Linked DNA regions of Homo sapiens: region 1 is linked to region 2. Evidence: fine-mapped expression QTL. A gene starts in region 2. The other region holds a variant in brackets. All regions are shown on one strand. Distances are from middle to middle. Region 1 overlaps TCFL5 (transcription factor like 5). Region 2 holds the start of COL9A3 (collagen type IX alpha 3 chain).

Region 1 (2,899 bases), 30 kb after region 2:
CCCAGCTTCTTCCCAAATTTTAAAAGGTTTTAGGATGCAATTTAAAATGACCCCACATTTTGATAATTTCCTATATTCTGACACCTAAAGCCTACATATAAAAAACACTTGCCTATTTGGCAAGATAGAATTCACCTTTCAGGACAATTAAATGAAAGTCAGAGCCTGGGCCGGCTCCGGAGAAGTTAGACCCTCGGAGCTGGTCTCGGACTGCTGGGGCGTCACCCCTTCAGCAACCCCCGCTGACCATGGCAGTATTTCATGACGAGGTGGAAATCGAGGACTTCCAATATGACGAGGACTCGGAGACATATTTCTGTCCCTGCCCATGCGGAGATAACTTCTCCATCACCAAGGAAGAGCTGGAGAATGGGGAAGGTGTGGCAATGTGTCCAGGCTGCTCTCTCATTATAAAAGTGATTTATGACAAAGATCAGTTTGCGTGTGGAGAAACAGTGCCAGTGCCTTCAGTCAACAAAGAATGAGTTAAATGCTAAGGAAGCCTTCAGGAATCCGAACCCTGAACAGCTGGAAATGAGCCCAGATAGAAACTTCAAATGCAAAGCTCCTGGCTTCGTGGAGACACAGCCATTTGTGATTTGCTGTTCTGTAGGCGTGTTGTGGATTCTTTCCATCAACTGCTGATTTCATCTTCAGGAAGCAAGTCCATAACATGACGTATCTGGAGTTTGTGCTTAGAACCTTAAATTGGAAGCATTCTTAATTATCCATCTAAATTTAAAAGACGATAATTTAAAAAAAAAGAAGGAAGGAAGAAAATAATCATCCTCAGACATAACTAGGCGCTCGCAAGATCTTCTGAACTATTTTCACACAGTGATGAGGCTAGTCCCGGCGTCTGCCTTCACTATGAACAGTTGGGCAGAGGCAGGGTTGAGTTGTGGTTCCATCTGGACCCTTGCAGGGCCCGCCCACGACCCGTCTCCTGGGAGCTGGGGCAGCTGTGAAAGAGAGGAGCAGATCCCCTTAGTCCTCCTCAGCTGAGCCCAGGCCAAAGACGTGGTACTGATGTCATCGCACTCTCAATCTGCACCTCAATCCAAATGCATCTATTTGCAACAGAACATATGTGAAATCGTTGAGTTTTAAAGGAATTTTTATAACATCAAAACATTGAGATGACAACGTCCCAAAGCAGATACTCATGTTAGATTTGTGAACATGAGAAGAATAACAACAAGACGGGTGCGGTGGTGAGGGGCGCCTACGGTCCTAGCTACTCGGGAGGCTGAGGCAGGAGGAGCACCTGAGCCCAAGAGGACGAGGCTGCACTAAGCTGTGGTTGCACCGCACTCCAGCCTGGGTGACAGAATGAGGGCCCCTCGCTGGGAAAAAAAAAAAAAGAGAGAAAGAAAAAGAAAAATAATAATACCAACAATAAAAAAAATTTTCTTAGTAAGAAAAAAGAAATAGCTCTAACTAT[G/A]AGTCAGGAAAATATACCAGGAAGTTATTAAGAGGAAGAAAGCGGCCGGGTGCAGTGGCTCACACCTGTAATCGCAGCACTTTGGGAGGCCGAGGTGGGTGGATCACCTGAGGTCGGGAGTTCACGACCAGCCTCACCAACATGGAGAAACCCCATCTCTAATAAAAATACAAAATTTGCCGGGGTGGTGGCACATGCCTGTAATCCCAGCTACTCAGGAGGCTGAGGCAGGAGAATTGCTTGAACCCAGGAGGCAGACGCTGTAGTGAGCCAAGATCGCGCCATTACACGGCAGCCTGGGCAACGAGTGAAACTTCATCTCAAAAAAAAAAAAAAAAAATTACAAGCTATTTAAAACTGAGAAACAATGAAAGCATTGTGTCCTAACCTGTGAAATGTTTCAAAAGCACACCAGGACAAATTTACTATAATGCATTGATTAGAAAACAACATAGACAAAATAAACTTTCAACCCAAGATACCAGAAAAAAATAAAACTTCAAGAAGGAAATAATAGAAATAAGGTTTTGGGATAATAAAGATAAGAGCAAATTATGATGGAAAAAGCACTACCACTGACCCCACATAAAAAACCAACAAAGTGAATGACTGAGCCCCAGAAAGACTCCAGCACGGCCCAGGCCAGAGGGGTACAGCAGACCAAGGAGCTCAGGTGGCCAGAGGTAAGGAGGCATAAACTCATTAGGACAAAAAGAATGGCTTTTCTTTTTCAAGATGCTTTATTTTTAAAACAGGTCACAACACAGCGTTCGGCTCATTCTGCCACGAACAAGCTACAAACGCTTGCTCTGCAGCCGAGAGGCCCTCCAGTGGCCATGTTCAAAAACAGAATGAAAATCCGTATGTAGGCCAGGCGCGGTGGCTCACGTTGGTAATCCCAGCACTGTGGGAGGCCGAGGCGGGCGGATCACCTGAGGTCAGGAGTTCGAGACCAGCCTGGCCAATATGGCAAAACTCCATCTCTACTAAAAATACAAAAATTAGCTGGGCGTGGTGGCGTGACCAAACGGCATGGGAGGCCATGATCACAGGCTGCTGGGAATGGATCCAAGAGAGGATGAAGTGGCTCAGGAGGTACAGACAAGCGCCGGGCAGCCGGGCAGCCAAGGAGAGCAGAGAAATGGGCGGTTGCCAGTACAGGACACGAGGTCCAGGGAGTTCTCACAGAAGGATCACGGGAGAAGTCACAGCGTGTCCGCAGGAAAGGAGGAGAGAAGGGACAGGCCAGTCCGAGTCTGCAGCAGGGCCTGACAACAGACAGCACGTGAGGGACAGCGACACCGGGGCCTGATGCAGATGGCAGGGAGATGCGAAGCGGGACTCAACCACCTGCTGGTGTGAAGAAGGGAGGGACAGACACCACAAGGGAGGCCCCAGGAGTGGCTGGCACCTTCAGGGCCCCCAGCGTGCAGGGGCATCTCACAACTAAACACA
Region 2 (2,853 bases):
TGTGCCAGGATGACTTGGACTCCTCAGGAGGGTGGGCCTTTTCAGCTCCTCCCACCTCGCCTGATGGAATTCGCACACACCCCTCCCAGCCCAGCCACCGCGCTCACCCAGCAGTGAAGGGAGAATCTCCCTCCACTCACTTCACCGCGGGAGAGATTAGAGCGACACTATTATTTTGAGACAGGGTCTCACTCTCTTGCCCAGGCAGGAGTGCAGTGGCGCCGTCTTGGCTCACTGCAGCCCCGACCTTACAGGCTCAAGCGATCCTCTTGCCTCAGCCTCCCGTGTAGCGTGGACTACAGGCGAGCACCACCATGCCCAGCCGATGTTTTAATTTTTGGTAGACATGAGGCCTCCCTCTGTCTCCAAGCTGGCCACGCCCGGCCGATGTTTCAATTTTTGGTAGAGATGAGGCCTCCCTCTGTCGCCAGGCTGACTGCGCCCGGCCAGAGTGCGGTGCTCCTGCTGAGCAGTTTTGCGCCCACTCCCCTCTCATCCCCTCCCGCCCTTGCTAACTCACAGCATTGCAACAGTCATGAGTCCCCACCTGCCGAAAGGAAGCTCCTGCAGCCCCCTACAACCCCCAGGGCAGCCTTTCTCGGGAATTTTCAAGATTCCTGGGGGAGGGGCTGGCATCTGCGCCTTCACTGAGCCTACAGGCAACTGGAAGCTTTGAGTCCCCTAGGGCAGCGACTGCCCTGGCAGCCTGAGGCAGAGCTTGGCCGGACCTGGCGACCCCTGAGCTTCTGGGAAATGGACATGGCCAGCACCGCCTTCAGGTTCCTGCCCAGGGCACGGTTCCTTCAGGCCGGGGATCCCGGGGAGGGGTTCTTCCCCTCGGCCAGGGTCATCGTTTTGCGATCTCTCCTGGGAGTCTGGGTTTGGAGTCTGGTCTTAGCCGGTAGCAACTGACGTGGCCTGACCACCCGGCCCGTCCAGGTCCACGGGTGAGGGGCCGCGGTGGGGGTGCTCCCAGCCCAGCAGGCAGCGCTGGACAGTGACCCCGGAGCGGGAACCAGGGCTGCGCTGGGCACTGACCGGGCCCTGGTACCGGGGATTCACCCTCCCCGGGGTGTTCCTGGGCCTTGGGTCGCCTGGGTCCGCTCCGGCGCCTGGGGAGGGGTCTGCGGCTTCGGAAACTCGCGGGTCTCCCCTGCCCCTCCCTGAAGGCGGCCCTTCAGCGCCGCGCGCTTCCGCCCCCACACTCGGGTTGAGGAGCAAGGAGAGAAAAGAGCGTCTTTCTCTCTTGCTCAAAGCTGCGTGTGTGCAACGCGCCAGTCCCAGGATAATTTTAACTCGCGGCCGGAGAGAACGCGCCGCCCGCCCGGCGTCTTTTTTGTTTTCGCCCAGGCGGGCTGGGCGGCGGCGCGGGGCGGGTGGAAGCCCCCCCGCCCAGGTGGGCCCGGCTGAATGGGGGGCTTGTGCAGGCGGGGGCGGGAAGGGGAAGGGGAAGGGGCCGCCCACCTCCCGCCCCGCCCGCCCGCGCGCCGCCCGCCCCGACGCCGCAGCTCAGACTCCGCTCAGCCATGGCCGGGCCGCGCGCGTGCGCCCCGCTCCTGCTCCTGCTCCTGCTCGGGGAGCTTCTGGCGGCCGCCGGGGCGCAGGTGAGCGCGAGCTCCGGGCTCTGAGGCTGGACGTGGAGCCGCGACCGCCCCAGCCCCGAACCCGCCACTCCGGGGTGCCCGGCGCAGCCTCGACGCCCCCAGCCCGTGTCGCCGTCGGGGCGCGGAGTCGCCAGCGCCTCGGGATGAGCCCCGTCCGGCCGCGTCCTCGATGGGTCCTCGCTGGCCCGGGTCGGCCGGCGCCGCCGCCTCCTCTGGGAGCACAAGGGGGCCTTTGTTCCCGCCGCCGGAGGGAGGCGGGGGACACACTGCGCGGGGGCGCCGGGCTCCGCCCGAGGCTTTGGGTCTCACCGAGGAGAGCGGCGGTCGTCGCAGGCCCCGGAGCCGCTCGGGACCCGGGAGGAGGGGACGCCGGGTCAGGCCCACGGGGGCACCTGCGCTCCTTAATGAGTTTTCTCCGTTTCAGAGAGTGGGACTCCCCGGCCCCCCCGGCCCCCCAGGGCCGCCCGGGAAGCCCGGCCAGGACGGCATTGACGTGAGTTTGGGGGTGGGGAGGGCCCCGAGCGCTCTGGGGTTCTGGCTCTGGCCCCCACCTCCCTGAGCTCCCCGGCCTGATGGAGAGAAAACCAGGCCCCACCTCCCAGAGCCGGGGTGACATCAGGGGACAGCCAGTGCCTTCACGGGATGGGGGTGGCCCTGCGGGGACTGCTGGTGGGTAGGGGTGGAGGGTGTCATGTGGTGGTCCTCCACCCAGAATGCCGGCACTGAGGTGTGTGTCTCTGGGTCCCCTGAGGGGCCCGTGCCCCTGTGTTCGGGGTTCTGGCCTCTGGCTGAAGTGGGGAGAGGCACGTCCTTTGGGTGGTTGGGGGCCGGGGGTCTTGTTGGAGGCTGCTGGGCTCTGGAGCCAGCCATGGAGGGGGCTTAGGAGCCGACTCAGTCCTGAGATGATGTCCCCTATGGGTATCTCAGGACTGGTGTGGGCCAAGCAGCAGGAGGAGGCGGCTGAAATTCTACAATTGTGCCTCCCTCGGAGGGACCGTCTGGGGTGAACCTCCCCATGTGACCACCACCAGGGCAGGAGTCCCCTCAGGGCCTGTCCACGCTGTGTGGTCCCCGTGGAGGGCTGTGGAGGGCTGCACCAAGAGCCCCCCATGACCCACCCTCTGCCCCCCTGCCCAGCTCGGCCTCAATGGCCACAGCCTCCTTCCAGTCTGTCCAGTTCACCCCTTTGCCCAGTGCTGCCCCACACATGGGAGGGTGCCCTCTAGGTAGGGATCGGGGGCTCAGGGGC

What was found.
Region 1: its variant is fine-mapped to the expression of COL9A3 in whole blood (INTERVAL, PIP above 0.99).

Annotation. Positions count from the first base shown.
Region 1 is chr20:62,845,416-62,848,314 of GRCh38, forward strand. The region is part of intron 5 of TCFL5 (transcription factor like 5); the gene reads right to left. It also overlaps the pseudogene DPH3P1. Among named protein-coding and RNA genes, the nearest start is that of TCFL5, 15 kb to the right of the region's middle. RefSeq lists an enhancer at 2,122-2,416. The variant G/A (reference allele first, on the strand shown) is at 1,445.
Region 2 is chr20:62,815,539-62,818,391 of GRCh38, forward strand. It overlaps COL9A3 (collagen type IX alpha 3 chain), which reads left to right and starts at 1,512. Exons shown (of 32, transcript NM_001853.4): 1 at 1,512-1,604; 2 at 2,029-2,097. The coding sequence starts at 1,527. RefSeq lists enhancers at 1-378, 1,067-1,752, 2,441-2,853.